2 separate regions of the Homo sapiens genome follow, and region 2 is linked to region 1. The links come from fine-mapping of genetic effects on gene expression. Tissue or cell type: whole blood. Region 1 holds a variant in brackets; the other region holds the start of a gene. All regions are shown on one strand. Distances are from middle to middle.

Region 1 (2,752 bases):
ATGCAGTGGTACGATCTTGGCTCACTGCAGACTCGACCTCCTGAGCTCAAGCGATCCTTCCATCTCAGCCTCCCAAGCAGCTGAAGCTACATACATGTACCACAACACCCAGCTGAATTAAAAAAAGAAAATTGTGTTTTTTTGATAACAGAGTCTTGCTCTGTTATCCAGGCTGGAGTGCAGTGGTGCAATCTTGGCTCACTGCAACCTCTGCCTCCTGGGATCCTTGCCACCTCAGCCTCCAGAGAAGCTGGGACCACTGTTGCACACCCATGCTCAGCTATTTTTTTTTTTTTGTATTTTTAGTAGAGGCGGGGTCTTGCTATGTTGCCCAGGCTGTCTCGAACTCCTAAACTCAAACAGTCTGCTTGCCTCGGCCTTCCAGAGTGTTAGGATTACAGGCGTGAGCCACTGCACTCAGTTAGTATATTTTTAATAGATTTTTTTTTTTGAGAAGGAGTTTTGCTCTTGTTGTCCAGGCTAGAGTGCAATAGCATGATCTCAGCTCACTGCAACCTCTGCCTCCCAGATTCTCCTGCCTCAGCTTCCCGAGTAGCTGGGATCACAGGCACGTGCCACCACGCCTGGCTAATTTTTGTATTATTAGTAGGGACGGGGTTTCACCATGTTGGCCAGGCCAGTCTCAAACTCCTGATCTCAGGTGATCCACTCGCCGTGGCCTCCCAAAGTGTTGGGATTACAGGTGTGAGCCATTCTCCTGGCCTTTAATAGATTTTAATTCTTCATTCTTCTTTATTTCCCTCTGCTCCTGTACATAGGGTGTATTGGTAGTAATTAACTTTACGATACAGTTCATAGGTTGCAAAATGTTGAGATGGATGATAAGGGAATTGCAGGAGGAATGGACATCATCCAGAAACGCTAGACTTGGGAGTGGATATGATAATTAGCAAGACTTTGACTTGTCTCCCTTCGGAGAGAGTGAATTTTTTTTTTTTTTTTTTTGAGACGGAGTCTTGCTCTATTGCCTGGGCTGGAGTGCAGTGGCATGATCTCTGCTCACTGCAACCTCTGCATCCCAGGTCCAAGCGATTCTCCTGCCTCAGCCTCCTGAGTAGCTGGGATTATAGGCACCCACCACCA[C/T]GCCCGGCTAATTTTTGTATTTTTAATAGACACGGGGTTTCACCATCTTGGCCAGGCTGGTCTTGAATTCCTGACCTGACCTCAGGTGATCCACCCACCTCGGCCTCCCAAAGTGTTGGAATTACAGGCGTGAGCCACCGTGCCCGGCCGAGTGAATGTATTTTTGACAGAAAGAGGGATAGACTCACTATACTACATAGGCCAGATATGTTGTTGCTGTTTTTTGAAGACAGAGAATAGGATATAGATGACTGTTGGGCATGTAAAACAGTGCACCGCAGGGGCATTTGTCATTTTGTTGATTGTCCAACAACTTCTCTGCCTATTTTGGGGAATTCCTTTGTAGGTGTGTTTGTGCAGTATAGTGTCTAGATAAGCCGAAGTGGGAAGGTCCTTCTCTCTACCTTAGCTACTTTGTTTTTTTTGGGGGGGAGGGAGGGTTTGGGTTTTTTTGTTTTTTTTTGAGACGGAGTCTCGCTCTTGTCACCCAGGCTGGAGTGCAGTGGTGTGATCTTGGCTTACTGCAACCTCCACCTCCCAGGTTCAAGTGATTCTCCTGCTTCAGCCTCCCAAGTAGCTGGGATTACAGGCACGCGCCACCACACCTGGCTGATTTTTGTATTTTTAGTAGAGAGGGGGTTTCACCATGTTAGCCAGGCTGGTCTCGAACTCCTGACCTCAGGTGATCCACCCACCTCGACCTCCCAAAGTGCTCAGATTACAGGCATGAGCCACCGTGCTCGGCCAGCTACCTTGTTTGAAGGCGGTATCCTGAGCTGCTAATCCAATGCTTCAGTTCTGTTGCCTAGTTCCCTTTCTCCACCCCAACAGGGCAGACCAGCCCCGAGTGGTTTCCCAGGGCCCTGTGGCTGGTGCCTGATGCAGGGTGAGTTGAGAGCACTTTGGGGACCCAGGACAAGAATCTCCTCCTTCCATGGCTACTCCGGCCTCAGCTCAGGTCCAGGGTGAGTTGCTGTCTTCCACTGGGTGAAGCTCTAAGGATGGTGTCCTTTTTTCTTGTCTTCCCCTCCCCAGAGAGCAGGAGATAAACCACTGAAGTGCTGAGGGGCCCCACAGGTAAGAAGGTGCTGGCCCTTCAGTTCCCCGACCCTCTGTCTTCACAAACGTTACCAGGGCCTGAAGCTGAACCCCTGTAGGGACAGAGAGATGCAGTCAAATACAGGCTGTTGGGGTCCCACAGACCTGGGTTTAAATCCCATTCCTGATAGTATATCAAATCTCCAGTCTCCATATGATGACAAAAAATTCAAGTGAAAAACAAAAAGTTAGCCGGGAGTAGTGGCTCACGCCTGTAATCCCAGCACTTTGGGAGGCCAAGATGGATGGATCACCTGAGGTCAGGAGTTCAAGACCAGCCTGGCCAACATCATGAAACCCTGTCTCTACTAAAAATGTAAAAAATTAGCCAGGCATGGTGGCAGTTACCTGTAATCCCAACTACTGGGGAGGCTGAGGCAGAAGAATCGCTTGAACCCAGGAGGCGGAGGTTGCAGTGAGTGGAGATTGCACCATAGCGCTCCAGCCTGGGCAACAAGAGCGAAACTCTGTCTCAAAAAAAGAAAAAAAAGGGAAACAAAAACATAAAGTTTGGTGGGAATGTAAATTGGTATAGACACAATGGAAAACA
Region 2 (2,500 bases), 230 kb before region 1:
TAGACTGCTGCCCCGGGTGCTGTCCGGGAGAGGGTCTGGTGCCGCCCTGACTTGGCAGCGCTTTTCCTGGATGTGCCCTAGCCGTCCCCACCTCCTGCTGAGTTCTGTGAGTCAGAGACGGAACCCTGGGGTCTCCTGGCAGGCCCCACAGTAAGGCCTGGGCCCCCGCACGTTGCAGCCTTTCCTTCCAGACCAGCGGACAAGCCTGGTCTGGAACTATGCTCCTCTCCAGCCATGGCCAACCTGAAGACCCCCACCCCCAGCCGCTGCCAGCCCCTGCCCTGGGGCTCTGCTGTGCCCCTCTCCAGCCCCTGGGCCCTCGGACAGCGCCCCCGTCCTCCCGGCTGTTAGCCTGGGAAGGGGGCCAGGCCCTGAGCTCAGACCTTGGCGATTCCAGAGTGTCTGAGGCCCAGAGCCAGCCCCGCCAGCACGGCCAGACGAAAGGAAAGGGGGGAGGTGGCAGGGTGGGCACCAGGAAGCCATTCCGAGGGGGCTGGCAGGGAAGCTGGGTTCTAGCTTTGTTCTTTCTGCTCCTCTTCTGGACCCCACAGACTTCCTCCTGGGACCTCCGTGAGCCCTGGCCAAAGGCTGTCCCCACCCTTTAGCCCTTTCCTCAGAGGGGATTGGACCAGCACTAACGAGAAGTTACTTTGGGGCCCTGAGACCCCCACGTTTGCAAGGGAGGCTGGGAAAGAGCTGGAAGGCCTGGGCTCCGGCTCCACCCGGCCTCCATCGTCAGTGTGACCCGGCAGGGCCACCTCTCTCCCTCAGCCTCGGTATCTCGCTCTACGCAGGCCTCCCCGCCCCGCCCCGCCCGGAGGAATCCGCGGCCGGCCAGACGGTCCCAGGTGAGGGCCCTCTGGAAAGGGCCCAGCGCGGCCGCGGGTTCCGGCGGGGGCGGGCATCTGGGGTGGGGACTGTCCCCGCGCCACCCCCCAGCCTCCGCCAGCCTGCACACCCTCGCTTCTCCAGGCGGCAGAGGCGACGCTTTAAACAACAAAAAAAAAAAAACTGTGTCCCTGGCCCGGGGCCAGCGTCCCAGCCCCCCTCGCCGCCGCCGCGCCGCGCTCCAGCCAGGGAAAACAACTGCTCACTTCTCCCTGAGCCCTCCCCGCGCGCTCCCTGCCTCCCCGCGGCCGCGGGAGAGGAGCCCGGCCAGGGGGAGGCGCGGAGCGGGCCGGCCGCCCGGCCTTCCTCTCCCTCGCTCCTCCTCTCCGCCTCAACTTGCTCCGGCCTCCTCGCTCCTGCCTGAGTTCGGGGCCTGGTCTGGGCTTCGTCCTGGGGCTGGGAAGTTTCTGCGCTCCCCGCTGTCCAGTCTGCATCTCCGCGCCTCCCGCCGGGCCCCCGCGGTCCCCTCCCGCCCGCTTCCCCCGCTGCCCTCCCTCGCTGCCCCCTACCCTCTCCCGGGGCTCCCGGCCCTCTACTCCCTTCGGGCGCGGGCCCCTCGCCCCGCCCGGGCGCGCCCCCCCTCCCCCGGGTCCTGCGGCCCCGGATGCCCGGGCCCCGAGGGGCTGCTGGCGGCCTGGCCCCTGAGATGCGCGGGGCGGGGGCGGCGGGGCTGCTGGCGCTGCTGCTGCTGCTGCTGCTGCTGCTGCTGGGCCTGGGCGGCAGGGTCGAGGGGGGGCCGGCCGGCGAGCGGGGCGCAGGCGGGGGCGGGGCGCTGGCCCGCGAGCGCTTCAAGGTGGTCTTTGCGCCGGTGATCTGCAAGCGGACCTGTCTCAAGGGCCAGTGTCGGGACAGTTGTCAGCAGGGCTCCAACATGACGCTCATCGGAGAGAACGGCCACAGCACAGACACGCTCACGGGCTCCGGCTTCCGCGTGGGTGAGGGCCGGGGGCACGGCTGGGGGCAGGGGAAGGACAGGCACCAGGCCCGGTGGGAGAGCTAGTGGGGTCTTGGCCTTAGAGACTGGGGGCTGAGGGTATAAAGGGCAGAGATCCGAGGGCCTGGGGGACCAGGGGCCTCAGGGAACTTGGGAGGCTGGAACTCTGGGGGCCAGAGTTGGAGGGCTGCATGGAGGCCTGGACTTTGAAGCTTTGCGTTAGGGTTGGGGCCTAAGGGGTGGGGAAATGCAGAGGTCCTGGATGACACTGGCTTCCCAGAAGGTGCTGAGTTCTGAGCAGGAGCACACAGGGTTTTTGAGGAATGTGAGCCGGGGACAGGAAGCCTCAGAGAAGGGCTAAATATTCCCGCAAGAAGCAGACTTGCTGGAAGAAACAAGAAAAGTCTTTACAAAATGTCTAAAGTAGGGCCTGCCAGAGTAGACACCTGCATTCCCTGGGAGGAGGAGCTAAGGTCAGGGCTGGGGATGGGAGCCGGCTACTGGCAAGGTCTGAGTAGGGAGGGTGTTGAGGCCTAAAAGTAGGGTGCAGGCCTGAAGGTAGGGACTAGTTCGGGGTTCTCAGCCTCTCCTTTTCCAATGCCTCCCCATAAGCTCCTAACATCCTGCCTCAGAGGCCCTCAGGGCCCCCCTCATCCTCCCCCAAGCCCCTACACCCTC

What was found. PIP is the estimated chance that this variant, and not a neighbour inherited with it, causes the effect.
Region 2: it holds the start of LTBP3, and the variant in region 1 is fine-mapped to the expression of LTBP3 in whole blood (INTERVAL, PIP above 0.99).

Annotation. Positions count from the first base shown.
Region 1 is chr11:65,325,891-65,328,642 of GRCh38, reverse strand. It overlaps LOC124902691 (a long non-coding RNA gene), which reads right to left. Exons shown (of 2, transcript XR_007062728.1): 2 at 418-2,255. Among named protein-coding and RNA genes, the nearest start is that of DPF2, 6.6 kb to the left of the region's middle. The variant C/T (reference allele first, on the strand shown) is at 1,105.
Region 2 is chr11:65,556,952-65,559,451 of GRCh38, reverse strand. LTBP3 (latent transforming growth factor beta binding protein 3) reads left to right here and starts at 1,093. Exons shown (of 28, transcript NM_001130144.3): 1 at 1,093-1,823. The coding sequence starts at 1,493. RefSeq lists silencers at 815-974, 1,025-1,264.